Homo sapiens: one gene and its partners. The protein of the gene in region 1 interacts with the protein of each later gene in a pairwise test. Each region holds a gene or a part of one and is shown in the gene's direction. Other genes may lie near its edges.

Region 1 (4,547 bases):
AACAAAAAAATTATAAGTGACTGAATGATCAGATAGAGTCTCAGGAGTAAAACTTACAAATAGGGGAAGGATTTTTACATTATGGCTGCAGATCCAAGTTCAAACCTGCACAGGAGAGAAAAGACACTCCGTTTATGTTTTAAGACATATTCACTAAGACAAATAATGATTTTCTTTAGCTAAAAGAACCACCATATGAAATGATATATGTATAAATCAATTTCAATGTTGATTTAGTTTTTATATTATTACCTTAGGAATAGAACACAAAATAAGCTCTATCTAAAATTCATAATAAAATTGCCCAGGCACAATGGCTAACACTTGTAATCCCAATACTTTGGGAGGTCAAAATAGACGGATTGCTTGAGTCCAGGAGTTTGAGACCACCTGGGCAACATAGTGAAACCCCGTCTCTACTAAAAATACAAAAATTAGCTGGGCATAGTGGTATATGCCGATAGTCCCAGCTATTCAAGAGGCTGAGTTGGGAGAATCACCTGAGCCCCAAAGGTTGAGGCTGCAGTAAGTGGCAAGATCATGCCACTGCACTCCAGCCTGGACAACCAGTATGAGACCCTGTCAGTAAATAAATAAATAAAATTAATACGAGGCCAGATGTGGTGGCTTACACCTGTAATTCTAGTACTTTGGGAGGCTGAGGCAGGAGGATCCCTTGAGCCCAGGAGTTCAAGACAAGCCTGGGCAACATAGGGAGACCCTGTCTGTAAAAATAGATAAAATAAAAATTAATACTAAAATAACCAGAAGCTTTGTTGAAATAGTAAGGTGAATTAATTTGACAAATACTTTCTAAATGTCTAGCATGCTGCTTTGGAAGAAGAATGTGATAATGTGGATATGAATTATAGAAAATTAAGATGAGGAGTGATGCCTGATCACTAAGTCAGTTTTCATCCTGCAGAGTGGGTTGCAGTGCAGTAAGAGAGTGGGAAGGGAGAGTTAATTGTCACCAGCATTGCTTTCATCATTTGACAAGTGCCTTGCTGTGCAAATACAACCCAGAGGGGTTGTCAGTGGTCTAGCGTTTTAAAAAGCCCTTGGGCAGGGGTTCATTACCTTTATCTTCCTGGTTCCTGCAGTGTGTAAGAGATTCAGCTTCATCAGGAAAGTGTACATGGTGTTGCTGAAGATGTAAGTTTCCCTTTTTTGTGAAGTTGTGATTAAGGGACCTTGAGAAGCGTGCCAGCCCTCTCCCAGGGAGCAGTCACCTGTCCTCCGGATTCATCTGATCAGCCTTCTGCAGATGGGCTCAATGCTACAGCCATGTGTATATACTGCCAAAACCAACTGGAGACACCTTAGTCATGTAGCTTATATAGAGAATGATGTTCCAAGTCTCAAAAATCCTCAAACCCTATTTTCAATAAATGCCTGAAGGCTGACTGCCTCATCCCTATCATAGTCCAGAGATGGAACTGTTGTAAGTATCCTCATAAACTCTGTCCTGCAGCAAAATGGATGTCTCATGAAACACTGAGCTCCCCAAAACACTGAGCTCCCCAAAACACTGAGCTCCCCAGCTTTGCAAACAGTGCCCAAACTTTCTCTACAAATTGAGTTTTCATCAGCCCATCTTCCTTTCAGCAGAGAGATGATATGTTAGAATCCAATGTAATGAAGGATTAAGGGTCATAGTTACAGTGGGTCAAATTTCAACACATTGTCAGCATGTTGACTTGCACCATCGGACACGGTACCCTGGCCTTATTTCTTTCAGGGTTGAACCAACTATGTGCCAACTGCTAGCTGAGGTCATCACCTCCTAGGAAGCAGTCTGTGGGAGGTTGGAGGGTTAACTTTCTGCCTTCTCCGAGGTCTCGCCCCCACATGGCACACTGTATTCTGGCCCCAATGTGTGATCCCATCTCATCTGTATCAGAATGAGTATTGCACAGTATGAGACCAGGTAGTTACATATTTAAGTGCAATGAAAAAATGTTCTTCGAAATGAGGCATTCAAAATATTTTCATTCAAAATGCAAGACTGTTATCCCAAGTTGTCCCTAACACCATATTTTGCATTTGTTTCTCATACCTTGAGGCCACTGCTGACCAGTGGATTTTAGTCTAGATGGGTCTGCTTAGAGCAGAGGGATGCAACTCCATTAACATCAGTGAGTTGGAACTATTCTTCTATTTATAGCCACTTCATTCCATTTTAACTTTATGATCATTACTTTTTAAAATACCATTTTATGAGTTGTTAGTTTTGCGTGTAATTCTCCACCTCCCACCCCCCTCTTATTTTTTCCCATTATTAGAGCCTTATTTGTTAAGAACAAAAAGTAAGTAACAATGCAGACTTGTGGTCACAGTTTCATGAACATACAGCTTTTCACTGGTACCTGAATATTTGCCTTCTGAGTATAATGAATGAATTTAAATGGTCCCTAAAAATGGGTAGACAGTGCCACCTTCTCAAGATGGAGGCTAAGCCAGTATTTAGAAAGCCTCTGCCTGTTGTAACACTTGCTGGCAGGTGTGATGGGCACTTGCTTTCTGTTTTGTGTATCTGGAGCGATTACCACTGCCGAAAGTAGACCAGAGATGGGTTCCTGGGAGGGACCCTTGTGACAGTTCCGAAAGTAGCCATCGTATCAAAGCAACCCTTGACCTAGAGCAGACACTCAAGGCGTGCTGATAAAAGTGTTCAAGGGGCCCCCTTGCTAGTCCCCTCAGCCTCAGTAGTCTCCTATCCTGAACTTGTCTGGATTTCTCAGTTGACAACTACTCATATAATCTTGCAATGGCTTTTCCATTGTTGACTTGCTTACATTGTTACTTAGTTAACTTTTCATCATTTGTACCTCTTCTACAAAGCTAAATCTTAGATCTCTTGAGCACAGGCCTGAGTCCTACACATATCCTTCCCTCACACCACTAGCACAGAAGAAGAAACAGACTGGACTTGGTTTGGAATCCTAGCTCTCCACTGACTAGCACTGACCATGGATAAACTCCTTCACCTCCCTGCTTCATAGTTTCCTTATCTACAGAATAAGGGCAGTCATGCCTGCCTTGCAGGGTGTTACAAGAGCACAGTGCTGGGCACTAGGAGATACTTGGTAAATGGTCATTCTGGCTCACCAAACAAAGCCTCACACACAGAAGCTGAGCAAAATCTTGCAGACTTAAATATGACAAAGCAGGACTGAAACCAGAATGGGAGAAGAGCTAGTTATGAGCTCTTGAACTTTCATGGTGAGGACACCATTTCCTCTGCCCTTGGGCTTAAGTGACAGTTTACAAACCAGATTTTTTATCTATGACTCTTTCATGACCATATGACGATCATTTCAAGCTCAGGAAGTTTCCTAAGCCTCAGTGATCTAAGGAGTGCCATTGATTTGTGATGTGGAGACTTTGCTCATTCACCTCCTTGGTCCAATTCATACATTTAAGCATCAGCTCGTCCCTGAGCGGAGATGCTTTCTCCAGCTCCTTGCAGCCATGTGGCAGAGGGTGACTCCCAGTACTGCTTCCTGATCTACAGATCCCCATGGATGTCCCTGGCTTCTTTAGAAATTTTCTTTACAAGAGGCCACAGTGGAAGATAGTGGTAAGACTTACTTAGACCTACAGCATCAAAAAAAAAAAAAATGGTGATAAGGATGGGAGTATGAGAAAAACTGTGTGAACACTCTGGGGACTGTTGTGGGGTGGGGGGAGGGGGGAGGGATAGCATTAGGAGATATACCTAATGCTAAATGACTAGTTAATGGGTGCAGCACACCAGCATGACACATGTGTACATATGTAACCTGCACATTATGCACATGTACCCTAAAACTTAAAGCATAATAATAATAAAAAAAAAAAGAAAAACTGTGTGAACAGTATAAATAGCATTGAAATTAGTTTCCTACATTTCCCATATAGTGAGCACCTTTGCCAAAACTCAAGAAGTGTCTTATCCACCCTTTTGGCAACTGGCACATTACAGAGGAGCATAGGATCATTACGAGGGCAGGGGTCAACTCTGCATTGATTTCACCATTTCTTTCTTTGTGGTGGAGCCATGTGGCAGTAAAGGAATAGGTCATGTGACATTCTTGTCATCTTCTTCAGTTACCTATAAATACACATTTCCTTGCTTTTTTACTTTCTTTTAAAGATTCTTGGAAGAAAAGGACATAAAACAGATGTATTGTCAGTACTACATTTGCTGAACCTATTACCATGTCAGCTTAGCAGGATACAAAAGTGTCGGTCAGACCTCCTTTTTAATACTGGTACTGTGACACGGGGCAAACAAAGACCCTTGCCTGCCTGCCTTTGATCAGTTGATCGGTTCAGTTAGTTGGTTTACATGATGCCTTGCTCCAAAAGTAACTTGAGACAACACTCTCTAAACATACTGTGTTGTCACCTTGCATACACAGTAGTAGTATGTTAGGACACAGTTTGACTCATGACATATTTGGTAACATACAAGCTTTTAACAAGTATTTACCATGTGAGAGACCCCAGGTTAGATTAGATGCAAGGTTACAAAGACAGACAAAACCATTCCTGATCTGAAG
Region 2 (4,547 bases), about 20 Mb from region 1:
AGGAGAAAGCGCCCTGGAGGCCCTGAGGCCCGCTGTAAAGACTGTGGCAAGGTCTTTAAGTACAATCACTTTTTAGCAATCCACCAGAGGAGCCACACAGGTAATGATGTTTTCAAAGCTGATTGCAGTGTGTTGCAGAATTGGGAGTAGTGATGATAATAATAGCTTCCATTTACTGTGCAACTTCTGTGTGATGGGCATTGTAATAAAGCCTTTATACATGTTATTGCAGTTAATTTTCTCCACAATCCTGCAAGGTGGGTAATATCCTCATTATACATTGTATGATTAAAATCATATTTACTCATATGTAAGAGAGGGTTGCTAAAGTGCATAGTTTACAGATGAAGCAACCAAGTTCTAGGGAGCTTAAATAACTTGCCAGAGTCACCCGTTAGTGACAGAGCTGGGATTGAACCCAGGTAGCCTGGTTCAAGAACCCCTCTCATTTGTAGTTGTTGAATGAATCCTTTAATGTCCACTTATCAAGATCTAGCCCAATGTACCCTGCTTTCTGATTCTTGAACATTCTTCATCTTGACCATAACCATGCTTTTGCCCAAGTCTGTGTAGATCACTTTGTAACTCAGCTATCTAGCTTTAAATACCTTCTCATTTTTGGTCCCTCTAGCCCAGCGCTGACCAATGGGACCCTTCTGTGATGATGGAAATGTTCCTACATCTCTGATGTCCAATATGGTGGCCAGTAACCACATGTGGTTTTTGAGCACTTGAACTGTGGCTAGCGTGACTGAGAAACTGAATTTTAAATTTTATTTTAATTCATTTAAATTTGAATAACCACATGTGGCTAGTGGCTACCGTATTGGACACTGCAGTCCTAGTGAGAAATCCCTTCCTCCTTTGAGCCCTTTCAGGTGCTTAAAACCCACTCTGCTTTGGATCAGATTGTTGTTACCACTTGTATATCCCTCAACTTAATTGTAATCTTAAGTATAGGGACTGGGGCTTAAGTCTTCTCCTGTGATCCAGCAGTATCTGGTGCTGTGGTTCTCAGCCTGCAAATTGGAATCACTTAGGGAGCTTCTAAAACTACCAGTGCCTAGACCTCCACCCCAGAGCTTCTGATTTAGTTGTCTGGAGCCTTGGTGCTTTTAAAAGCTCCCTAAAGACTTTAGCTACAGATAGGTTGAAGAGCTTGAATTCAGGTACTTCGAACAAAGTGGATACTTGAGAAATATTTGTTGAACTGTAATAGGTTATATTTTAGCTTTTTTTTTTTTTTTTTTTTTTTTTTTGAGATGGATTCTCGCTCTGTCACCCAGGCTAGAGTGCAGTGGCGCGATCTCGGCTCACCGCAACCTCCGCCTCCCGAGTTCAAGTGATTCTCCTGCCTCAGCCTCCTGAGTAGCTGGGATTACAGGCACACGCCACCACGCCCAGCTAATTTTTTGTATTTTTAGTAGAGACGGGGTTTCACCATGTTGGTCAGGCTGGTCTCAAACTCCTGACCTCGTGATCTGCCTGCCTCAGCCTCCCAAAGTGCTGGGATTACAGGCGTGCGCCACTGCGCCCAGCTGGCTATTTTTATCAAAAATTTTATGTGCATAGTTTAGAGTTAAATCATTATACAAGACTTAAGAAAAAGCATGTAGGATCGTTCTTCCCTTATGTCCTCAGTACAGACAGTCCCCGACTCACAATGGTTCAATTCATCTTTACAATAGTGTGAAAGCAGTACATGTTCAACAGAAACTGTACTTTGAATTCTGAGTTTTGATCTTTTCCCGGTCTAGTAATATTCAGTATGATCCTCTCATGCCATGCCGGGCCACACAGTCACGTGGGTAAATGACCAGTACTCTGCATTTGGTGCATTCATACAGTACTCTGTATAAGTGCATTTTTCCTTATGATATTTTCAGTATGATGGGTTTGTTAGATGTAGTCCCATCATAAGTCAGGAAGCATCTGTATTCTGAATTTTGCAGCCCATCACTTTAGTATGGGTCTGTTTTCTTCCATCTGGGTAGATAACAGGTAGATTCATAAGGTTTGGAAACTGTCTTTCAGTTCTGGAAAATCTTGAGTTATTTCATAGATGATTTCTCCTCTCTGTTTTCTCTGTTCTCTCTAACTTTATTTTCTCTTATATTTTCCATCATTTTTGGCCCCACCCTCTGGGGGATTTCCACTTTGTTTTTCAGCCCTTTGAGGTTTTCTGTTTCAACTCTTATTTTTTTCCCCCTTTAGGAGCTCTTTTTTTTCTAAATGTTTTAATTTGAATGATCTTTTTATTTCACAATGTATTATCTTACCTCTATGAGCATGTTAATGATAACAACATTTTCCTCACTGGAGGCAAGTTGCTTTTTTTTTTCTTCTTGCTTGTTTGTCTGTCACTATTACAAAAGGCTCTCCTTGAGTGCCTGGTGTTTTTTTTTTAAATCATATGTAAGGGTGGGTTGCTAAAAGCTACTGGCAATGCTGCATGTGTGGAGAGAGCCTGTATTTTATTTATTTCTTAGGCTGTTGCCCAGGCTGGAGTGCAATGGCGTGATCTCCGATCACCACAACCTCCGCCTCCTGGATTCAAGTGATTCTCCTGCCTCAGCCACCCAAGTAGCTGGGATTACAGGCACGCACCACCATGCCTGGCTAATTTTTTTTGTATGAGAGAGTCTGTAAAACTGTGACCTTGTTCCCAGATCACACTGAGAGTCAGGCTGCTATTTCTCGTGGCCCAATAATGAGATGCAGATGAATTGGAGAGGAAGAGAGTTTTTATTTCTGTAACCAGTTATAGGGAGAAGGCCTGGAAATTATCGCCAGACCAACTCAAAATTACAGAATTTTTCAGAGCTTATATACCGCCTAAGCTGTATGTCTGTCTGTAAGTGTGCATTCCTCTAAAGACGTAGGTGATTAACTTCTTTTAATCTATATCCAAGGTCTGCGTCCCAAAGACCTTCTTCTGGAGCCTCAGTAAGTTTACTTAATCTAAATGGGTCTAGGTGCTGGGGTGATTACCCTTATCTTCTGCTAAATCACGGAGATTTGGGGAGTTCCTTCAGATCCCCAGTAAAACTTGTTTAATCCTAAGTGGGCCCTGTTAAGAATTCCTTCGTTATTTTGTCATGCTTTAAGGCCCAGGAGAAGCCTAGGGGAAACTCTTGGTGGGCTTTTGTTACATTCCAGCCTTTGTTTAAGGGCACTGGCTTTTAATGTTTAACTTAACCACTCAGTCAGTACTGAAACAGTTGTATGGAGGCCTGTCATAACCTCACTGGAGGTGGTGTGGCTGTGCCCCATGTCCTTACTGGTGCCTGGCTTCCACATCTTTGCTCTCTCACCTTGGACCTCTCATGTTCCACTGGAAGACGCTTCTGCTCTCCCACTTGGAGGCACTAGGCCTGGCTGCTGGCCTGTGTCTAGGACAGGATGGGGAAGAAGGAGTGGGGGAGTCTCATCATCCCAGATGGAAATGTTGACTTACTCTCCCTGTGGTGATCCCAACTCAACTGTGCCTAGAAACTCCTAATCCAAAGACCCCTTTTTCTTAACCCTCCTCAGTGAACACTCTCCATTCTCTTTTGGGGGAGGGACAGTCTCCTGGCTGTGTAGAGTGGAAGATTTGATCAGGGGTCTAAGCACCTTTGAAACAGACTTTCATTTACCCTCCCTCACCCCTGTTTCCAGAGATAGCAGGTGCCACCAATTCCTGAGCCTTAGGAGATTGTGTCTTAAAAATTAGGTTGTATTGGGCTGGGTGTGGTGGCTCATGCCTGTACTCCCAGCAATTTGGGAGGCCGAGGCAGGAAGATTGCTTGAGCCCAGGAGTTGGAGACCTGCCTGGGCAACATAGTGAGATCCCATCTCTAAAAAAAATTAAAATTACAATTAAAAAATTAGCTGGGTGTAGTGGTGGCACATGCCTGTGATCCCAGCTACTCAGGAGGCTGAAGTGGGAAGATCATTTGTTCCCAGGAGGTTGAGGCTATAGTCAGCTATGGTAGCGCCACTGCACTCCAGCCTGGGTGATAGAGTGAGACCCTGTTACAAAGGAAAAACAAAAAATTAGGTTATGTTAGTGCTACTCACTGCTGGCTTCAGATTCATCTGTTCAGCTTCCAAAATTTTATTGCTGATGTCTCTTGTGTTCATTGTTGGCCTTTTGGATGTGTGCCTTTTAAGAAAAATCCTTTATTGTTTTTTTAATTTGGGAGAGACAGAAAAATGTGTGGATTCTTACTTATACCATGCTTCTGGGGCTCTTCTTCCAGGGGAGCGACCTTTCAAATGTAATGAGTGTGGAAAAGGCTTTGCCCAGAAGCACTCGCTACAGGTCCACACCAGGATGCACACAGGCGAGCGGCCGTACACCTGCACCGTGTGCAGCAAGGCTCTGACCACCAAGCACTCACTGCTGGAGCACATGAGCCTGCACTCAGGTAGTGGGGCTTGCCCAGAGGGCCAGCTTCACCAGATTCCCATTCCCCAGGGTGGGCATTACCAACACCTAAATGGTGTTTTCTCAGCCTAGTATCATTTCCAACGTGGTGTCATTGAAAGACAGGATTTTGCAT
Region 3 (4,547 bases), on another chromosome or scaffold:
ATGGCCTCTAAGGGCCTTTCCTGCAGTTCCCTGTGTGACCCCAGCCAGCTGGGAGATGCTAAATCAGAGCGAGACCCCAGTGCTGGCTACAGGCCTGACCCCTCCTGGACAGACAGCAATTCTAACCTCCCAGCTGCTCACTGACCTCTACAGTGTATACCACTTGATTCCACCAAAACCCTGCGAGGCAGGTATTGTTCCGATCCTTTAGATGGGAAAGTGGAGACCCAGAGAGATGGAGTGGCTCACCCCAGGTCACACAGCCTGAGAAAACAGAGATGCGACTTAAACCCAAGCTTGACTCCCAATCCAGTGCTCCTTTCCCTGTTTCCCACACCCCACCTTTGGGCCCAAAGTCACGTGGATGGGATCCCCTCTGCTCTCTTCCCATTCGCCTAGCATCTGTACTGTCTCTGCCAACAGGCCCAAGGAAGCAGCTGGAGAGGAGGAAGAATTAGAGACAGGGCCAGGAGGTACTGAACTACGTTTCGGCTTGGAACCCGGCTTGGTGACAAGCTGGGTGATGGCGTCAGAGACTCTGACCATCCACCCTTCCCCAGTGCCTGCTCCCTGCCAGGTCTTGAGATGGGTGGCCTCAAGCACCCAGAGCTGACTCAGCCTCTCCCTGTCTGGTGGAGAGACAGCAAGGAAATACAACCCATTACACACAGGGGTGGGGGTCCCTAACAAGTCCTAGGGATCAGGGAGGGCTTCCTGGAGGAGGAGATGTCTGCACCCAGGGCCGAAGGATGAGTAGGAGTCTGCCAAACAAAGTAGAGGGGAGTGAGGGGAGAGAAATATCATGGGGTGGGAGGTGGCTCAGAGGCAAGAAAGCGCGGGTGGGAGGAAGTGAAAGAAATTCTGTGTGGCTGGAGCACAGAGTGGAGGTGGCAGTGGTGGGAAATGGGCGTGGGGCTGGACACACAGGGCCTGGGGTGCTGGGAGGGTGGGTCTGGACTCCATCCTTAGGATAGTAGGGAACCATGGAAGGTTTTTTTTTTGTTTGCTTGTTTGTTTTTGTGTTTGTTTTTGAGATGGAGTATCACTCTGTCGCCCAGGCTGGAGTGCAGTGTCGCGATCTCGGCTCACTGCATGCTTCACCTCCCGGGTTCACGCCATTCTCCTGCCTCAGCCTCCTGATAGCTGGGACTACAGGTGCCTGCCACCACACCCGGCTAATTTTTTGTATTTTTTAGTAGAGACGGGGTTTCACCATGTTAGCCAGGATGGTCTCAATCTCCTTACCTTGTGATCCGCCCGCCTCAGCCTCCTAAAGTGCTGGGATTATAGGCATGAGCCACCTTGCCCAGCCGAACCATGGAAGGCTTTAATCTGGCTGGTGGCATGGTCAGATTCGCGTGGTGCAAAGATTGTCCAGCTGCTGTGTGGGAATGAGCTGAGACCAGCAGGGAGGTGTGCTGGGACCTCCCCAGGTGTGTGTAGGGTGGTGAGGGTGACCACTTAAGAGGCCTGCATTGGGTTGGGCGTGGTGGCTCACACCTGTAATCCCGGCACTTCAGGAGGCCGAGGCAGGTGGATCACCTGAGGTTAGGAGTTCGAGACCAGCCTGACCAATATGGTGAAACTCTGTCTCTACTAAAAATACAAAAATTAGCTGGGCGTGGTGGTAGGCGCCTGTAGTCCCAGCTATTCAGGAGGCTGAGGCAGAGCTAATCGCTTGAACCCAGGAGGCGGAGGTTGCAGTGAGCTGAGATCCTGTCACTGCACTCCAGCCTGGGCGACAGAGCGAGACTCCATCTCAAAAAAAAAAAAAAAAAAAAAAGGGAAAAAAAAAAGGCCTGCATTGAAAGGTAGGATCGGTGAGGTTGACATGTAAACGTCTCCAGATAGTATCTGAAAGGTCAGGGTAGCCAGCAGATCTCATATGACTTTTCCAGGTAGGATGGGAGTGCACAGAGGCCCCCAAGGAGAGCTAGGTGGGCAGCCAGGGCCTGAGCCCCCTAGGATTTGGAGTGCTAGGCAGGGAAACTGAGGCCAGAGCCCAGGCTAAGCCGGCATGTTCAGCAGTGGGGGGTCGCAGCTCAGGGGTCACCCCATGAAGCCACTGGTCTTCACCGTGGATCCGCACAGGGGTCTAAAGCTGCCTGGGTCCTGACCTGGCACTCTGGGTCCACCCAGCTACCCCCAGCGAAACCTGGGTGACCCCTAAGACTCTCCTGCTTAAGGGCCACAGTGGCTGCCCCTGTCAGGGGATCTCTGCAAGCGCCAACTTCCTTCTGTCCCACTCCTTCCTTCCCTGTGAGCTGCCAGACCCCCTGACTGTGTGGGCTGGGAGGAGCTGGGGAGTTTCCTGAGAAGCCCTGGACTGTCCCCACCTTGGCCTGAGTCACACTGAGAACTCAGCAAGGATTCCTTGAGTATCTGCGAGGTGCCAGGCGCGGTTCTAGGCATGGGGGAGGCCGCGGTGAATCAGGTATAAGTTCTGCCCTCATGGAGCTGGCATTCTAATCGGGGGGTTGGGAGGGACAGACACTGAACAAATAACCACCATATATGTGAGTGATGACAATTACACATGGGGAAACCTGAGGTGGGGAAGGGACACAGGGAGTGTGTGTGTGTGTGTGTGTGTGTGTGTGTGTGTGTGTCCGTGTGTGTATCAGGGGTTGCAAATTCTAAACTGAGTGAACATGAGATTTGAAGAGACCTCAGGAGGTGATGGAGCAAACTTTGTGGATATCTAGGGAACAAGGATGCCAACAGAGGCCATGCGTCGTGGCTCATGCCTATAATCCCAACACTTTGGGAGGCGGAGGCAGGCGGATCGCTTGAGCCAAGGAGTTCAAGACCAGCCTGGGCAACATGATGAAACTCTGTCTGTACAAAAAGTACAAAAATTGGCCAGGTGTGGTGGCATGCACCTATAGTTCCAGCTACTAGGGAGGCTGAGGTAGGAGGACCACTTGAGCCTGGGAGTTTGAGGCTGCAATGAGCTGTGATCGTGTCACTGCACTCCAGCCTGTAACGGAGTGAGTGAGACCCTGTATAAAAAACAAAAACAAAAACAAAAACGCCAGCAGAGGGACCAGCCAGTGCAAAGGCCCTGGAGAGGAGCGTGCATCCTGTGTTGAGGAAGGGCGGGTGTGGCTGAGGCAGGGGAAACAAAAGGAAGCCAAGTAGGGCTGAGGTTGGAGAAGGGATGCTGGGGAGCACTTTCTTTTTTTTTTTTTTTTCAGACGGAGTCTCACTCTCGCCCAGGCTGGAGTGCAGTGGCACAATCTTGGCTCACTGCAACCTCCGCCTCCCGGGTTCAAGCGATTCTTTTGTCTCAGCCTCCCAAGTAGCTGGGACTACAGGCACGTGCCACCACGCCCGGCTAATTTTCGTATTTTTAGTAGAGACGGGGTTTCACCATGTTGGCCAGGCTGGTCTCGATCTCCTGACCTCATGATCCACCCGCCTTGGCCTCCCAAAGTGCTGGGATTACAGGCGTGAGCCACCGCGCCCGGCCACTGGGGATCACTTTCTGCAGCACTTTGTGGGCCATGGTGACAACTCTGGCTTTACTCCAGTGAGCCGTGGGAAGGTCCTGAGAGAGGTGTGACATGAGCTGACTTAACACAGCTACCTGTGTCACCCAGGGGGAAAGTGAGGCACAGAAAGAGTGGCTGACCTATCAGAACCACACAACTAGAGAGCGAGACCACCCCCAAAAGGCCCCAGGTGTGTCTGGCACCAAGGTCCATGTGCTTTCCATTTCTGCACCTTGTCCCTGGGAGACACCCCGGTCCTGCCAGAATGTGTCAGAGGCTGAGCCAACCCGTGAGGTCAACCCTGTAGACAGCTCAAGGAACCAGGACTTGGATCTGGCTTTTGCCCTCTGCTGTCCACAAAACTGGGTGATGCTCTTTCCGATACGGTACGTGTTTATAGGATGCTACAGCTCAGATCACAAAGCATCTTCCTTTGTTTTCTTTTTATTTATTTATTTTTTTTGAGATGGAGTCTCACTCTGTCACCCAGGCTCCCAGGCTGGAGTGCAGTGGCGCAATCTCGGCTCACTGTAACCTCCACCTCCCAGGTTTAAGCAATTCTCCTGCCTCAGCCTCTCAAATAGCTGGGACTACAGGCATGCACCACCACGCCTGGGCTAATTTTTGTGTTTTTGGTAGAGACAGGGTTTTGCCATGTTGGCCAGGCTGGTCTTGAACTCCTGAACTGAGGTGATCTGCCCGTCTCAGCCTCCTAAAGTGCTGGGATTACAGGCGTGAGCCACCGCGCCCAGCCTATCTTCCTTTATTTTCCTTGGCTTCTTATCACTGCCCCCTCCCCTTGGAGACAGATGAGAAAACTCAGGTTCTCATGGCGGAGAACCTGAGAGGATTGGCAAAGTAGATCCTATCAGCTAGAGACAGAGAGGACTGCTGCTTTAAAGGGGACTTTGGGAGATGGTCCCCTTCTCCAGCCCAGAGCAATGACCACTGACCCTCCACGAGTTTTATTCACCTTTTTCTCCCCATTACCAAGTACATGTTTGGCAAAGAGCTCAATAAATAGTTGTTGAAGGAGCATGTGGCTGTCAGGCC
Region 4 (4,547 bases), on another chromosome or scaffold:
AAACATCTTATGACCTTGAAGGAAGCTTCAGATTTCTTCTTGATTAGGTCAAGGATGTGGTATATGGTCTTTTTGGTTTCTGTGTTACGGTCAGCTGAGTTTAAAGAGTGGGAGTATTCTAAGGTAAGGAGTCTAGTAGCAATCAAAACAAAGTTACTGGGGAAGATGGGAGAATAGAGACTAGACAAAGATGTTAGAATTTGATTCTAAAGCTCTCCTCAGGTAATAAAAATAGATAAATCTTAATGAGAAGGAACCAAGGGCAGTGATTTGGAGAAGTCAGTACAAATAAAGGTATTCATTTGAAGAAATATTTGAGTGCCTTTTATGTGCCAGGCACTATTAAATAAAACTATAGCTATTTTCCTTATTTGACTTTTTTTCTGAAGATAAAATCTTATGAGTGTGATTAATGGTTCTACAAGCATGGGTAGTTCTAGATATGATACCTACATTTCCCTAAAAGATTGTACTGATTTTTAATGATAACAGCAATGTATAAGGATGTTGTTTTCACCACGATTTTACCAGCAAAAATATTTGGCTAGTTGAACACACATAAAATTATTGTTCTCTTTGCTTATAATCTGATAAGTGTTTCCATACCTTGGAACCTGGATCTGTTGGAACATGAAGGAATTCAGGACCCTTATACATGTTACCCCATATGGCTTCTTTAAAGGATATGGATTTTTGAGGATCCTAGAAATCAAAATTCTCTAATTTTATTCAGCTCAAAAAAAAATTTTATTCAGTGCTGCTGTCCTTATTTTCTGAATAATATTCAGATTCAGACCACACTGAGCCATAATTCCAATTCCCACTTGACTAACATTTATGTAGTATTGTGCTAGGCACTACATGTTATCTTAATTCTAATAATTTGGCATTTTTCCATATGAGAAAAATAAGATTTAGAAAGATTAGATTACTTGCCCAAAATCACTTAACCAGTAAGTGGTAGAGACAGGATTTGAATGCAGATCCTCTAAGGCCAGTGTTTATTCTCATACTGCATGATCCCTCAGTATCACTACTAAAATTTACTGGAGGATAATGGAAAGTGGAAAATCTGAACTGGAACTTGGGACAATCAAGCACTGACTTACCTGTGTTCATAATGAAGCATTTAGCAGAGATGTTGTTTGTTGTTTTGTTTTGTTTTTACTGGGGAGGCTATAGTACATAAACAGAGCGAAAGATCTTGGTATGGTTAAACCCACATTTTCAAGGCCTTCTGTGTTCTCCCTGATGATCAGGTACCTACTACCCCAAAATCTGTGATGGTAACAAAGAAGGAGGAAGGCAGCTGTAGAAAAGCAACGGCCTTTGGGTATACCCAGTAAGATTTATGTGATTGTAGAAAGAGCAGGCAAATGGCTTGGCCTTCAGAGAATCCCACAAAGTAAAGTAACCTTTTAAAATAGTAACTTAAAGTCTGACATAAGATTCTTAACAGGATATTCATCACAAGATAAGATATTCAAAGCATAGCGTGTAAGACATTCAAAGCATATCAGCAAAAAAGGAGAGATTCCTTCATTTTTATTGAAGTATGGTATACTCACAAAACAAATTTAATATCAGGAATATAAAACAAGAGATACGATGTTCCAATTCTGGCTTTAGTCGGATATTATAAAATTTAATCCCAATTTATAGATAAGGCAATTCAAGGCTCGAGATTACACACCAAATAAGTGGACTCTAGGCTGGGTGTGGTGGCTTCTGTAATCCCAACACTTTGGGAAGCCAAGGCAGAAGGATCGCCTTAGCTCAGGAGTTTGGGACCGGCTTGGGTAACATAGTGAGATGCTGTCTCTACAAAAAAATAAAAAATAGCCAGACATGGTGGTATATACACATGTGGTCATAGCTACTCAGGAGGCTGAGGCCAGAGGATCGCATAAGCCCAGGAGTTCAAGGCTGTGAGCTGTTATCGAGCCACTGCACTCCAACCTGGGCTACAGAGCAAGACTCTGTCTCAAAAAAAAAAAAAAAGGAGGGGGGAGCCTCTAGAACATAGGCCTTTAATCTGTGTGGTTGTTTTGCAATTTATATGTATAATTTTTAAATAATATGTTGGCCGGGCACAGTGGTTTGTATCTATAATCTCAACACTTTGGGAGGCTGAGACAGGAGGATTGCTTGAGGCCAGGAGTTTGAGACTAACACAGGCAACATAGCAAGACCCCATCTCTACTAAACAAAATAATAATAATTTAATATGGTGGGTTTTTTTGTTTTTTTTGTTTTTTTGAGACGGAGTCTTGCTCTGTCTCCCAGGCTGGAGTGCAGTGGCGCTAGTGAGCTCATGCAATTCTCCTGCCTCAGCCTCCCAAGTAGCTGGGATTACTAGCGCTTGCCTGCTTCAAAAGAAATGATTTCCAGCACCCCATTTTTTCTTTTCCAGCCTCAAAATTCATATCTCCTTTTTTTCCCCCATGTCCACATGTCCTTCATTCCTATACTTCATAGCTTTAATTCCTGTTCTCTTGATACAAACCTTCATGTTTGTTGCTTGATGGCATCATAATTATCATAACTTTTTGGCTTAATAACAGTAGCAGTTATATCAACAAATAATAAAATGTTCATACTTTTGAGCCAATAATTCCACATATAGAACTTCATTCTGAGAAAATACTTTAAATAAGAAAAATAGTTAAAGGCACAAAATGTTAATAGCACTGATATCTATACTGTCTAAAACTTGAAACCTTCTAAATATTCAACAATATAATAATGCCTAAGCAAATTATTGCCTATCTACTCAGTGGGCTGTAAGACATTCATTTTTCACAATAGCGTCTTTAAGAATACATTGAAAGATGTTGTAAGAATGTTTTTGCAAAAATGAAAAGGAGAAACATCAGAAGAAAAAGTAGAAAAACTAATGTGATTGGTGTCTATTTCTGAAGCATTTATATTTTCTATATAATAATAATTTACATTTACTGACCACTTACTTGTGTCAGGAACAATACTCAAGCAACATTATAGAAGCAACAATTTGTAGTTATTGAAAACTGGTGTTCTAGAATCAAATCTGAGCTTCATCACTTACTAATATGTGGTCTTGAAAAGGAAATGGAGGATAACTATGTCTACATTAAATTATTAAATCTATATAAAGTATTTGGCACATACAAAACCTACAATAAGAATGTTTTTGTTATCAGACATTTTATAAATATGTCTCATTTAATCTTCACATCCTCACAGTAACCTCATTAGATAGTGTTAACGTTCATTTTACATGAAAGAAAATTGAAACTTCAAATGTTTAAATACTCTAGGTTAAATAACTTGCCGAATCACTTAACTAATAAGCAGTAGAGTTTTTATTCAGAGCCCAAGCTATGGTTTCCACTTATGACTCTGAGAGATGAGGTTGCTGCAGACTAATGCTTTTGCTAAGAACAGGAAAGATGAGAATTAAAAAGAAAAGTGAAGGCATCAGAGACCTGCTGAGGCATCCAGGACTTAAGAAACCACAACCATAGAACCAAAGGAGCTTCAGAGAAGTGGGCTGATGTTCCATGCTTCTCTTTTTTCCTAGGAATTTGCTAATTCTTAGAGCATGACAAGATGCTGTGAAACTTAGCAGAGGGTTTCTTCTAAAAGCAGAGAAGCTGTTAGTTTTATGGGGCGGAGCAGACAAAACTTGGATTTTAGAGATCTCCAGGTAGCTAGTTCTTGGGTCAAGATCCCTAGAGAAGGACAGTACCCAGAAACTTTTTTAAAACTTGTTTTCCCCTCACAGTGTTTGCTAGGCAGAGTCTAGAACTGTAAGAAAGTTAATTTGTATTGCTTTAAGCCAATAGCTTTGGATAACTTGTGACAGCAACAATATGAAACTATTACAGAGACATGAGGAAATGATGAAGAAGTCTAACATACATATGACTGGAGGAGAGAAAGTTAGAAGCAGTAATATTTTAAGAGACAGTGATTGAGAATTTTCTAAAACCGATGACAAATATCAAGCCATGGATTTGAAAAGTGCAAGAAACGACAAGCAGAATAAATACAAGGAGTACCACACTTTCATTCTTCATAGTAAAAATAAAACTGTTGAAAGTAACCAGAGGAAAAAAGACACATAATCTTCAAAGGAACAATTAGACTGACATCTGACTTGTCAACAGAAATAATGGGGGCCAGAAAACAATACAATGTAACTTTTTTGTTTGTTTTTTTGCTTTTACCTACTTGGTTTATTTATTTTTTATTTTATTTTATTTTATTTTGAGATGGAGTCTCCCTCTGTCACCCAGGCTGGAATGCAGTGGCGTGATCTCAGCTCACTGCAACCTTTGCCTCCTGTGTTCAAGCGATTCTCCTGCCTCAGCCTTCCAAGTAGCTGGGATTACAGGTGCATGCCACCACACCCAGCTAATTTTTGTATTTTTAGTAGAGACAAGGTTTCACCATGTTGGCCAGGCTGGTCTCGAAGTCCTGACCTCAGGTGATTTGCCTGCCTTGGCCTTCCAAAGTGCTAGAATTACAGGCATGAGCTACCATGCCCAGCTGGTTTTTTTTGT
Region 5 (4,547 bases), about 85 Mb from region 1:
GAGACCAGCCTGGGCAACATGGCAAAACCCCATCTATACAAAAAATACATCATAGCGAAACCTCACCTCTACACAAAAAATACAAAAATTAACTGGGTGTGGTGGCATGTGCCTGTAGTCCCAGCTACTTGGGAGGCTGAGGTGGGAGGATTGCTTGAGCCCTGGAGGTTGAGGCTGCATTGAGCCATGATCACATTACTGCTCTGTAGCCTGGGCAACAGAGTGAGACCCTGTCTACCAAAAAGAAAAAACAACAACAACAACAAAAAGAAATTATTCTATTCTACACCACACATGAATCCAAGTATTATACATTGATCCTTCATTTTAATAGAACACGAAGGGGAAGGGGGAAGACCTTAGATATCAACTCATTCATTTGTACAGATGAACAAACTGAAGACTTTTTCCTCATTCGTTCATTCCTTCAGCATTTATTGAACACTTCCTAAGTACTATAGGTTATGGTTTTTCTTTTCTTTTTTCTTTTTTTTTTTTTTTGAGACAGAGTTTCACTCTTGTTTCTCAGGCTGGAGTGCAATGGTGCAATCTCGTCCGGCTAATTTTTTGTATTTTTAGTAGAGATGGAGTTTCACCATGTTGTCCAGGCTTTTCTTGAACTCCTGACCTCAGGTGATCCAGCTGCCTTGGCCTCCCAAAGTGTGGGGATTACAGGCGTGAGCCACCGCGCCCGGCCCATAAGTACCATATATTATATAAGATGATATAGTCACAGTGATGAGAGCTTCCCCACCCCTAAGAAACTTGTAGGTGACTAGATAAGCGAAACAATAATTTATTTTATAGAGACAGGGTCTCTGTTTACTAAGCTGGAGTGCAGTAGTGCTATCATATCTCGTTGTAACTTCAAACTCCCGTGCTGAAGTGATTTTCCTGCCTCAGCCTCCTGAGTAGCTAGGCCTATAGGCTCATGCCACCATGCCTGGCAGATTTTTAAGTGTTTTTTTTTTTTTTTGTAGAGATGAGATTTCACTATGATGTCCAGGGTGGTCTCAAACTCCTCAGTGCCTCTCCTGTCTTGGCTTCCCAAAGAGCTCAGATTATAGCTGTGAGTCGTGGCACTTGGCCAATAATTTCTTTTTGACAGTTGCTGCGATATGAGTAATATTAGTAAACGCTAAAGGAATAGGGAAGAGGAATATTGAACCAGGAGTTTCACCTATGGGAAGGCTTTCCATCGTAGAAGGTGTTTCCAGAATGAGAAGTAAAAGCCAGATGAGGAATGTGGTTAAAGATTGCAGTGTATATCCAAGCATGGAGGAAGAAGGGTGCTTGATCTATTTAGAGAACTCTTAAGTGTTTTAGAATGGTAGGAGGTGGGAAGGGAGGGACCACTGAAGTGTTTAGCCCTGTACTAGCTTTATTTTAGTGATGTTTTCTCTCTGTCTGGAATAAATCATTTCTTCCCTTATGCATTGGCTGAGTTATATAAGTAGAACTTAACAGCTGAGCTGTTGAAATGGAGATTATTTATTCAGGTACTGATAACCTTTTGTTTCAAATCATGACTTTGAATCCTATATTCCAGAGGCACTGAAATGTTATTTATTTACCTGTGCATTCAAGAGATAGCTGGCAGCCTAGCAATTTAAGTTACTGTTGTTGTGGTAACTTGAGGGCGATATATAAATCAAACACTGATCCTGTTTTCCAGAAGTTTATACTTTAAATGCATTTGTATATGATTAAAATAAGGTATTAGGTTGGTGAAAGTAGCTGCAGTTTTGACCGTTACTTTTAAGGGTGAAAACAGCAATAACTTTTCTACCATCCTGTACAAAGGGCTGCTGAAGCGTTGTGGGGTCTCAGTGCAAGGAGAGGTCACTTCATCCCTGATGCTTGGGCCACACCTCAGACCAACAGCAGTGCTAAGGCCCAGGCTTCAGATAATTTTGTTTAATTTTTTTTTAAAATTCTCTCCATGATTGGGTAGAGCCAGGGCTGAGAAACATTGACCTGAAGGAATTAGGGGGCTTCATGGAGGAGGTAGTGTTTGTGTTGGGCTTGAGAGGATTTAAGTTTCTCCTGGGCCTTGAAAGGAATTGAAGGATTTAAATGTTTGAATGTGGTGGTAAGATGGCTACTGTAGGTGGAAGATGACTCACCCTTTACCTTGAAAGGATGAAGGAGAAACCCTGATTGAGGTCTAAGAAAAAACAATCATGACCTGCGGAAGGCTTTGGCCAGAGCTGTAGAGTGCATGAGGGTGAGAACGGGGAGATCCCGTGAAAAGGTAATACATCGGCTTTCATATGTTTTAGGCATGAGATGAGCTGAATCCTGATATGATTTGAGTTAGTCTTCCCATGACCTGATGGAAGAGCTGTTATCTCCATTTAAGAAAAGTGAAGCTGCCCAGGTGTGGTGGCTCACATCTGTAATCCCAGCACTGTGGGAGGCTGAGGCAGGAGGATCACTTGAGCTTGGGAGTTTGAGGCCAGCCTGGGTAACATAGCGAGACCCCATCTCAATAAAATAGAATAAAAAAAAGAAAAAAAAATGAAGCTGAGAGTTTATTTAGCCAGGGTCACACAGCTGGAAAGTAGCTAGTGTGGACCTTGGCCTGAGATGTGATCTGTCTAGCTATGATACAACACTGCTTCACAGATAAAGTACCAGCTTCAGGAATTGGAAGGTTATTGATTTTTCTTGGATAACATGGGTACATTTCAGTCATATTTGAATTTTAATTTAGTTGGATTCTCACTTATTTGTAAAGCTAACCGGTTTGTATTGGAAATATTATAAATATTCTGGGAATCTCAAATGTTGATTTTATACTAGCTTTTTAGTTATTTAAGATAAATTTACATTTTATTCTATTAACATCTCTTTGAAAAGACGTAGTGCTTTTTTAGGTTGTCTATTTATGTGTGTATGTGAGACATTTCCTCTTGGGGGATTCTCTGAGACTCACATTTCTGTAGAAGCTTTTTTCAGATATACTTATGAAAATCTGTTCTCTGTTTTGAGAAATCTTGAAAGCTATGATATGTTGCAACTAGACACTCTAGCTTCATTGATTGGAGGCTAAGGGTTCCCGTATTTGTGGGCAGTAACAACAAAATTGACAATTTATTTTGTGTAAAGTATTTCAAATGTCAGTTATTTCTAGAGGTTTTTTTTCTTAAAAAAAAAAAACTCATTAATTCTTTTCATTGTAAAGGAAAGAAACCATCTTTTCATGCTACAAACCCCGACCACCATGAGAATTCTTTTACAGTGTGATTTGTTGTAATCTGTTATAGATCACTTTCATTCTTTCTTTCTTGCTGCATATGAGGGACCAGTATTTTAGGAATAATGTTTTCATATTGTCTGGATATTTTAGGATGATTTGTTAATCAAACTAGCTACAGCTTATTGTAATGATAGCTATTATTTATTTAGAGTTTGTTTTCTCTCTTCTAGGAGCTTTGCCATGAAAAGAACAGTCCAGGCCAGGCGTGGTGGCTCACACCTGTAATCCCAGCACTTTGGGAGGCCCAGGCAGGTGAATCACGAGGTCAGGAGATGGAGACCATCCTGGCTAACACAGTGAAAACCCGTCTCTACTAAAAAAATACAAAAAAAATTAGCCGGATGTGGTGGTGGGTGCCTGTAGTCCCAGCTACTCGAGAGGCTGAGGCAGGAGAATGGCATGAAGTTGGGAGGTGGAGCTTGTAGTGAGCTGAGATCGCACCACTGCACTCCAGCTTGGGAGACACAGCGAGACTGTCTCAAAAAAAAAAAAAAAAAAATCGCCACACTGTCTTCCACAATGGTTGAACTAGTTTACACTCCCACCAACAGTGTAAAAGTATTCCTGTTTCTCCACATCCTCTCCAGCACCTTTTGTTTCCTGACTTTTTAATGATCGCCATTCTAACTGGTGTGAGATGGTATCTCATTGTGGTTTTGATTTGCATTTCTCTGATGGCCAGTGATGATGAGCATTTTTTCATGTGTTTTTTGGCTGCATAAATGTCTTCTTTTGAGAAGTGTCTGTTCATATCCTTCGCCCACTTTTTGATGGGGTTGTTTGATTTTTTTCTTGTAAATTTGTTTAAGTTCTTTGTAGATTCTGGATATTAGCCCTTTGTCAGATGGATAGATTGCAAAAATTTTCTCCCATTCTGTAGGTTGCCTGTTCACTCTGATGGTAGTTTCTTTTGCTGTGCAGAAGCTCTTTAGTTTAATTAGATCCCATTTGTCAATTTTGGCTTTTGTTGCCATTGCTTTTGGTGTTTTAGACACGAAGTCCTTGCCCATGCCTATGTCCTGAATGGTATTGCCTAGGTTTTCTTCTAGGGTTTTTATGGTTTTAGGTCTAACATTTAAGTCTTTAATCCATCTCACATTAATTTTTGTATAAGGTGTAAGGAAGGGATCCAGTTTCAGCTTCTACATATGGCTAGCCAGTTTTCCCAGCACCATTTATTAAATAGGGAATCCTTTCCCCATTTCTTATTTTTGTCAGGTTTGTTAAAGATCAGATGGTTGTAGATGTGTGGTATTATTTCTGAGGGCTCTGTTCTGTTCCGTTG
Region 6 (4,341 bases), on another chromosome or scaffold:
TCTTTTTCACCATGTAGTGAACCAGTTTTCCCAATACCATCTACCAAGAAATATCTATTATTCATATTTATACAATGGAAATGCCACTTTTGGTTTTTTTGTTTATTTGTTTGTTTATTTTTTGTTTTGTTTTGAGACGGAGTCTCGCTCTGTCGCCCAGGCTGGAGTGCAGTGGCGCGATCTCGGCTCACTGCAAGCTCCGCCTCCTGGGTTCACGCCATTCTCCTGCCTCAGCCTCCCTAGTAGCTGGGACTACAGGCGCCCGCCACCACGCCCGGCTAAATTTTTGTATTTTTAGTAGACACGGGATTTCACCGTGTTAGCCAGTATGGTCTCTATCTCCTGACCTCGTGATCTGCCGGCCTCAGCCTCCCAAAGTGCTGGGATTACAGGCATGAGCCACCGCGCCTGGCCAGAAATGCCACTTTTATATTCAGTTTCCATATATTTAGGGGTATGTCTCTGAGGACTCTATTACATGCCATGGGTCTATATTTCTGCTCTTATATCAATACCATACTTGTTTTATTATTTTTGAACCTCAGCTTTCTGCCATGTCTTTATGAACTGCTACGGTAAGTATGCCCATTATCCTTCTTTCTTTTTCAGAAATTATTTAGCTAATCATAGAAATTTATTTCTTCATATACATTTTGGAGTAACTTGAATTCTTAGAAAACATTCAGATAGAATTTATTCAGAAGGCATTGTGTTTCTAAATTAATTTGGAAACAAATGGTATTTTTGTAATATGTTTGAACATTTACTCAAACCATAGTCTATGTTCTTTACTGGGGTGTTTAAGTTTTCCTACATAGGTGCACATATTCCTGGTTAAACTAGATCATTTAGAGATCTAACGTACAGCATGAGGGCTACAGTTAATAATATTGTATTGATAGAAAATTTGTTAAGATTTTAGGTGTTCTTTTCACACACACAAAAAAAGATAACTGTGAGATGGTGGGTATGCTAATTTGCCTGCCTGTAGTAATTATTTTACTTTGTATACATATGTCAAAACATCATGTTGCATACCATAAATAAATAAACCAAATAGTTTACAGACTGTTGATATTATGAAAGTTATTTTATTATATTTTCTAATAGATTACTGGTTTAGAATAAAGACTATTTCTGTTTGTAGGGTAATCTTGATTCCAGCAATGTCAGAAACTCTCCTTACTATTCTGAGACCCAATCTGCTATTTCTGCTTGTTTTCCCAGGCATATGATCCTATCTCCTATAAAGAATGATGGTTTTATCTGTTTACTTACAATTCTCACAATTCTATTTCTTTTTTCTTTCCTTATGGCTTTGGCCAGAACCTTGAGTCATACATAAAATTGTGGCAGTGTTAGTAGATATCCTTGTCTTATTCCTGATATTAACGTTTCTCCATTGAGTTATTTTTTATTTAGTTTTTATGGTATATAATCCTTATTAAGTTAAGGAAAATTACTTCTAGGTTTCTGAGAAATAGGTACTTATTAAATTTTTTGCATTATTTGAGGTAATTACATGATTTTTCTCCTTCAGGCCATTATTAATGAAGTGAATTACATTGACTGATTTTTCTGATACTAAATTCCACTTCCATTCATGGAATAAATCCTGTGTGTTCATGATGTATTACTTTTTAATACAGTTTACTTCAGTTAGCTCGTATTTTATTTTGGTTTATTGCATCTATAATTATAAGGGAATTGGGCTCAATTTTTTGCTTATATTGTTTTTATCTGGTTCTGGAATCAATATTTCACAACCTTCATAAAAAGAGCTGGGAAACTTTTTGCTCTTCTATTTTCTAGAATAACTCTTAAGAGTTTGGTAGAATTCATCTGGAAAGCAATATGAGCCTGGGGCATTTGGGGCAGGGAAGAGATGTCAACTATCATTTCAATTTCTTTAATATTCCAAGTTTTGTTTTTCTGTTTCTTCTGTCCTTCTTTCTACCTGATTCCCTTTTTTCATAGACACACCTCAATCCTCACTGCTCCATTCACATATCACATACAGTCTTTATCTTTGAAGATTCTGACTATATTTTAAAGCAAAAACTCAATCTCCTATTTATGAGTTAATTCCTAACACCTCGTAACACCGTTCCATCTTCCTCATGCCCTCTGATAACTCTGTGTGTATCTTGGACATTATTTATACTACTTTTATCAGGGTTATCTCTATGCATTATTTCCATTTCTACTCAGCAATGGATAATCTAATATCATGTATATAATATGACCTTTGCCTTGCATGCAGCCCTGTCTTCTCTAAAACCAAAAATTTTGTAAAAGTAGAGAGCATAATGCTAATAAGGGTCTGGCTTCTTTGTTTTTGCCCTTTCCCTTTATATACAAATATAGAAGGTTAAAAGCTTTGTACATAGAGACTTTGTGCCCTGTATAAACATTCCTCTTCACCATACAAACCCCACCCCCATTCTATCTCAAGTCCTCATTCACCTCAGCAGAGCCCATTGATCCAGTGGACTGTCTTTCATCCCTGGGTCTCGACCTCACTCCATAAATATTTATTTGGGGGGAAGGAATGGGAATGCTGCCAGACCACAGTAGTGAAGAAACCCAGTATCTTCAAGGTAAGGCATGGAGGGCAACATCTAAGCTAACTTGGTGAGATTTCTAGGAGGGTTCTTCTTACCCCTCGTGCCCAGTACAGTCTTTCTTTTTCAGGTAGCACTGGCCATTCACTGTAATTAAAGATAGTATGAAGTGTTTCTGCTAGCATCAAAGGAAAACAACTGGCAGATTTACAAATTATATTATATTATAGTTCTATTCACTGTTCATATACTTCTCTAAGAATCTTCTCTTTTCCATAACTAGTGTTGGGACCACAGAGATGAAAGACTATCATTTCCCCCACACCCCAATCAAGGTGCTCATGGTCTGGTAAGAAAGTCAAATGCATTAGCTGAAACTTAACAACTGATAAAAGCTGTGACAGAACCAAGTTCTAATGGCTGAGGAAGGATACAGAGGATCCTCTATGGTGAAGCTCACCTGCGGTCCAGCCCCATCACTGTCATCAGCACTTAGTCACATGAGCTACCCTAAAGGGAAGTAGGATCTGGCCTATGGAATCACAATCCCAGGACACTATAGCTGTGGGGCTTTGGGAAACCTTCCTGGTCCTTCTGAGCCTCAGCTTCTTCATCTATAAAGTGGCACCAACAGCCACTGTGGTGGTCGTGAGGAGTTAATGAAATGATGTGTGTAGTGTCTGACATGCAGAAGGGCCCAGGCTACTGGGAGCTGTTGTCTATTGGGTGTCATGACTCTTCGCTTCTGATTGCAGGTGGTAACACCAGATGGACATGGGAAGAACCGAGCTAAGTGGGGCCTGCTGAAGAATATCCAGTCTGCCCTCCAGAAGCACTTCTGAGCCCCTTCAGAGCAGGAAACAACCTCAGACTCATCACAAAGTAGACATATACACACACATATATGTATGTATATTTTTCTCACCACATTCTTCAAGGAGGTTGTAGACAAATGTTTCCATGACCTCTCAGCTTTCCAACAGGAATCTTGTAAGAGCTAATAAAAGGAAATACCTGACATGGCTTGCTGTTTGTTCAATGACAACTATTTGTTATGATGACAGTAATAAGCAAGGCACTCAGCAAGTCTGTATATTTCCAGCTGCTCAGGTCTAGTCCTAGGCTCAGAATTCTGTGGTGTTTTGTAGGAGCAACACCCAGCTTCTAGGTGGTAAAAAGAACACTGTATTTTGCAGTCGGGACCCCGTAGGTGTGCATTCTAATGCTGGCCTAACTAGCTTTGAATGCTTGGGCAAGTCGCTGATTGCCACGGAATTCATTACCTCACCATGTAGTCTATTTTAAGGAGCCAACATTAAAATGTTTTTCCTAATTATTGAACTTGAATTTGCCTTTTCACAACTTTCAGCCCATGGTCTGAGGTCTACCTCTAAGCCATAAAGAATGAGAGCCCTCCCTCTTCTCCTTCTGGACATAGCAAAGGAAGAACGGTAGAATGCCTGGTTAGAGGATCCTCTATGGTCATTTGAAGCAAGGCATGGAAGAATGACAAAATCATGTATCAGCTCCAACCTCACTGAACTTAGCTTGGCCTTTCAGACAATATGAAGTCCCTAGAATTTCTTGTCATACAAGGCCCTATCTGCCAGAAATGACCCTCTACTGAACCCCACGCCATTTCTTCCCAGAAAGCACCACCTGTCTTTCAAGACTCAGCTCAACCACTTTCCCCAGTGATCCTCCAAATTATGATGACAACATCTTTCTCCCCTGCATCCCCACTAAGCACAGGGACCACCTGTCCCACCCCTATTTC
Region 7 (4,547 bases), on another chromosome or scaffold:
TCTCTACCAAAAACAGAAAAACTAGCCAGATGTGGTGGTGCGTGCCTGTAACCCCAGCTACTGGGGAAGCTGAGGCAGGAGAATCGCTTGAGCCTGGGAGGTGGAGGTTGCAGTAAGCCGAGACAGTGCCACTGCACTCCAGCCTGGATGACAGAGCAAGACCGTCTCAAAAAAAAAAAAAAATAGAATAAAGTGGGTTCCACATCTACTCTTTGCATTCTCTCTGTTGCGATGTAATGTGTTTTGTTTTTTGGTTTGGGGGTTTGCTTATTTATTTATTTATTTATTTATTATTATTATTATTTTTAGAACCAGAGTCTCACTTGTCATCCAGGCTGGTGTGCAGTGGCATAATCATGGCTTACTGCAACCTTGAACTCTTGGGCTCAAACGATCCCCTCACCTCAACCTCCTGAGTAGCTGGGACTTTAGGCATGTGCCACCATGCCCAGCTGGGTTTTCTTGTTTTTTGGTTTTTTATTTTTTTGTAGAGATGGCCTCACTATGCTACCCAGGCTGGTCTCAAACTCCTGGCCTCAAGCAGTCCTCCCACCTTAGCCTCCTGAAGTGCTGGGATTAGAAGTGTGAGCCATCATACCCAGCCACAGTATCATGTTTTGATTGATGTATATAAAAACGATCCAGCCTTATATAAATACGTAGTTGGAAAAGGCAGGTGTATCTCAATAGGCTTTTCAGATAATTGTGTGTATTTTTCTTTGATACGATACCAAAACTTAACAAGCAGCAGTTTCTTAAAGGTTAATTGCAATGTGGATTCTCACCATATCAATGAATTTTTTGTACTCTGTCACATTAGAATACATTACTATACCTTATACTTTAAATGGGTCTTATACACATGCGTGATTTTATTAACACCTTGCATTGGTCATTTGGAAAATATTGGTTCACTTAATTATAAAGATCTTCCAGATGACACATTTCATTATACAATATCAAAAAGTCACATTTGTTAACATCACCACCAATCTATTGGACAAGCTTTATATACTGAGATGGTGTCAAGCTTACAATGTGAATATAAGTTTTCCAAAATTCTAGTTTTTGCTTGAAAGCTAGACTTTTGTCATTGGCTACAATAACTGTCAGTTATTTATCTTGAAATGAAATATTCACTGTATTCGTTTTATTTTATTTATTTGTTTATTTATTTTGAGATGGAGTTTCGCTCTTGTTGCCCAGGCTGGAGTACAATGGCACGATCTCGGCTCACCGAAACCTCTGCCTCCCAGGTTCAAGTGATTCTCCTGTCTCGGCCTCCAGAGTGGCTGGGATTACAGGCATGTGCTACTACCCCTGGCTAATTTTGTATTTTTAGTAGAGACAGGTTTTCTCCATGTTGGTCAGGCTAGTCTCTAATTCCCAACCTCAGGTAATCCACCCGCCTCGGCCTCCCAAAGTGCTGGGATTACAGGCGTGAGCCACCACGCCTGGCCCACTTTATTCATTTTAATATATTTTTATTGTATATATATATATATATATATATATATATAGTATACATATTTTGATATAAATATACCTAGTCAGATGGGTCGAGCGCAGTGACTCACGCCTGTAACCTCCACACTTTGGGAAGCCAAGGTGGGTGGATCACTTGAGCCCAGGAGTTCAAGACTAGCCTAGCCAAGATGGCAAAACCCCATCTCTACTGAAAATACCAAAATTAGCTGGGCGTGGTGGCATGCACCTGTAATCCCAGACACTTGGGAGGCTGAAGCACGAGAAATACTTGAACTCAACTGCAACTTTGTACCCTTCGACCTACACCTCCCATTCCCCCACCTCACCCTCACTTCTGGTAATCACTGTTTTACTCTCTGTTTCTGTGTATTTCACTTTATTTATTTTGCAGAAATTTCTGCAAATACTTAGCTCTACATAACCACAGTTTGTCTGCAAGGCATAAAAATGGTGTTCCGTGAAAAAAGTGTCCGGTTCAGCCCGCGACTCAAACAATTGCACAGCTGCTTTACCCCAAGACAATCATCACACCTCCGTATATAGTAGAATTGCTTACGAGTGCTTCTTATTTTGTCAAACAAGTGTACTCAAGTTAATATTTAATCAAATTAATAACTTGTACTCCCTAAACAAGGACATTATTAAGTTAAAGGACTTTTTTTTTCTGCAAGTACATTGATGCCACTATTGTCCTGATTTGTACTGAGGCAGCCACCATTTTACCCACCACCTCTATTGCACCATCGATGCAAGGCAGCACAGTGAAAAAGACAAATAACGTTGTGATGTTATTATGAATAGAGTTTAATGCCATAAACCCCTTAAAAAGTCGGGGATCCCTCTCCAAGGGTTCAGTGGACCCCATTTTGAGACCCAGAGGCCTAAAGCACAAGCTGTAACAGGAGGAGGAGATGGCTTACACAAGATGCTGCAATAGCATCAATTCACACAGACATATTCTTTATAGGGAAACTTGAGCGTCGGAAGTGCCCTGGGGCTCTCTCTCTGGTGGTATTAGGAGTCTAGAATTCAGTATTTCAAAAAGCCCATTGGAAGGTGAAAGAATAAAGATAAGACTACATCATGGAATAAAAATTCAAAGGATGCACTGTGTGACCTGTAGAGAAAACATTCATTATATGCATCCAAAATAAGTGGTGATGTTTTTCAAATTGCAGATTGCGATATCTCACTCCAGAAAGTAGTGTTGCAATCTGACTCAGGGGCACACACACGGGTCAGGTTTCATCGTTAATTCATACCGCAGAAAGCATTAAGTCAATTGGAGCCTCAAAAGAGAATCACACAGAATTTTCTAAGGAACACAAACAGAATCTTGCCTCAGGGAACCTCTCGACAACTGCTGGCCTTTTTCCTTTATAATTTGCCTGCGCATTGGGCATTGCTCACTTTCTTCTGCAGCCACGCCCGACCTTGGTCATGCACTCCTCCTCTTCCCTCGCTGGAGCCCAGACTAAAGCTTCTTTCCTTGGTTGTTTTTTTTTTTTTTTTTTGCTAGAGATGAGATCCTGCCATGTTGCCCAGGCTGGTCTCAAACTCTTGACATCAAGTGATCCTCCTGCCTCAGCCTCCCAAAGTTCTGGAATTATAGGCATTAGCCACCGTACCTGTTCTTCAGCATACTTTTTTTAAAAGTACTTTTCGATAGGAAAGTTTTAGTTTAAAATGGGGAGGGGTCTCTGAGGGGGATAATGTCAGTCGGTCAGCACTCGGTCCAGGTTTTCTAGGATCTCTGTCAGAGAAAGCCTAAAACCACATTCCCCCCACCTCAGCAACCTCCTCCATCCTTCTGCTCATTGAAGCCTGAACTCAAACCCTTAGGCTTCATCTCTGACTTCAACTTGCGTGCCTACTGACTGTCCTTGAGATGTGAGAACAACACTTTCAGCTAATTTTCAGTTTAGTTAACCTCTTGTTGAAAACAGATGATCTAGGTGTAAATTTTGAAAGGATATCCCCTGAAGGAGCAAGAAAAATCTAAGAAACGTCCTCCTTGGGCAAAGACTGCCCATGGTAAAGAGCCTCTTCTGGGCGGGATTGCCAGGGGTACTGTGAGTTCTTCACACTGCCTTTAACTTGAGAAGGCTTTGGAGGTATCTAGGAAGGATCTCAGAAAACCTGATGAAGCATGTGGAATAGGGGGTCGGTATTTCGGTGAGTGATGTCTCTACTTCCCATACTCACATATCATCCCTGCTCTTTTATATTCGCATAGAACAGAGCCTACTCGACCCCCTCCCTCCCAGAGCAGTCGGCCCCAGAAGAAGGAGAGACGGTTCAACGTGCTCAACCAAATATTCTGCAAAAACAAGAAAGAAGAGCAGAGAGCCCATCAGAAGGATCCCAGCAGGGACCGATACAGAGAGGAGGACACCTCAGAAGTCAATGACATCATCACCACCTTTGATAGCATCGTGGGTACCAACTGCCAAGAACAGCCTGGTGATCAGGTGGCTATGGTTGAATTTAAGAAGAAAACCTCAGACAATTCAAAATATCTCTTACCAGAAAAGAAACCGCTGGCCCGTAAGGGGCTTCCACCAATCAGAACGCAGAGTCTCCCACCCATCACCCTGGGCAATAACTTCCTAACAGCCTCCCATAGGGCCACTTCCCATGCAGGCCTGAGCTCTGCTCCTCATCATATGGCCCAGCGATCTCAGAAAAGTCGAAGTGAGCAGGATTTATTAAATAACAGAACTGGCTGCCAGATGTTACTAGATAACCCCTGGAAGAGTGATTCTAATCAGGTATTTTCCTACAAAGTTTGGACTGTGTCTTCTTCTGATAAGCTGCTGGACAGATTGCTCAGTGTCCGGCCTGGTCACCAAGAGGTCTCCGTGCCACCACACCTTCGCCATCTACATAATCCATCATCAGGTAATGTCCTTGATTTCATGTTCATTCTCAGCAGGCTCTATACTGGAAATGTCCCGTACAGTTTTAAGCTAGGAACTGGAGTGACAATAGCCTAGAAGGCAGGGTGAGAATAAAATGAGTGATTAGAGCCACCTTTTCTCCCAAAGTGCACTGGATTT

Evidence for each region.
Region 2: the proteins of BACH2 (region 1) and ZBTB24 interact in binary tests that used the Homo sapiens proteins (3 or more experiments, as listed by UniProt).
Region 3: the proteins of BACH2 (region 1) and MAFF interact in binary tests that used the Homo sapiens proteins (3 or more experiments, as listed by UniProt).
Region 4: the proteins of BACH2 (region 1) and HMG20A interact in binary tests that used the Homo sapiens proteins (3 or more experiments, as listed by UniProt).
Region 5: the proteins of BACH2 (region 1) and FARS2 interact in binary tests that used the Homo sapiens proteins (3 or more experiments, as listed by UniProt).
Region 6: the proteins of BACH2 (region 1) and TRIM42 interact in binary tests that used the Homo sapiens proteins (3 or more experiments, as listed by UniProt).
Region 7: the proteins of BACH2 (region 1) and ANKRD55 interact in binary tests that used the Homo sapiens proteins (3 or more experiments, as listed by UniProt).

What each region holds. Positions count from the first base shown.
Region 1 is NC_000006.12:89,953,595-89,958,141, reverse strand, and holds part of BACH2 (transcription regulator protein BACH2), read left to right. Parts: intron 1-4,547. UniProt on the Homo sapiens protein: Transcriptional regulator that acts as a repressor or activator. Binds to Maf recognition elements (MARE). Plays an important role in coordinating transcription activation and repression by MAFK.
Region 2 is NC_000006.12:109,476,628-109,481,174, reverse strand, and holds part of ZBTB24 (zinc finger and BTB domain-containing protein 24), read left to right. Parts: coding exon 1-100; coding exon of another isoform or gene 101-150; exon of another isoform or gene 151-226; intron 227-4,244; coding exon 4,245-4,412; intron 4,413-4,547. UniProt on the Homo sapiens protein: May be involved in BMP2-induced transcription.
Region 3 is NC_000022.11:38,208,053-38,212,599, forward strand, and holds part of MAFF (transcription factor MafF), read left to right. Parts: intron 1-4,547. UniProt on the Homo sapiens protein: Since they lack a putative transactivation domain, the small Mafs behave as transcriptional repressors when they dimerize among themselves.
Region 4 is NC_000015.10:77,426,977-77,431,523, forward strand, and holds part of HMG20A (high mobility group protein 20A), read left to right. Parts: intron 1-4,547. UniProt on the Homo sapiens protein: Plays a role in neuronal differentiation as chromatin-associated protein. Acts as inhibitor of HMG20B. Overcomes the repressive effects of the neuronal silencer REST and induces the activation of neuronal-specific genes.
Region 5 is NC_000006.12:5,264,010-5,268,556, forward strand, and holds part of FARS2 (phenylalanine--tRNA ligase, mitochondrial), read left to right. Parts: intron 1-980; exon of another isoform or gene 981-1,069; intron 1,070-3,432; exon of another isoform or gene 3,433-3,514; intron 3,515-4,547. UniProt on the Homo sapiens protein: Is responsible for the charging of tRNA(Phe) with phenylalanine in mitochondrial translation.
Region 6 is NC_000003.12:140,697,569-140,701,909, forward strand, and holds the end of TRIM42 (tripartite motif-containing protein 42), read left to right. Parts: intron 1-2,847; coding exon of another isoform or gene 2,848-2,946; exon of another isoform or gene 2,947-3,174; intron 3,175-3,319; coding exon 3,320-3,406; 3' UTR 3,407-3,582; downstream 3,583-4,341.
Region 7 is NC_000005.10:56,110,960-56,115,506, reverse strand, and holds part of ANKRD55 (ankyrin repeat domain-containing protein 55), read left to right. Parts: intron 1-3,724; coding exon 3,725-4,389; intron 4,390-4,547.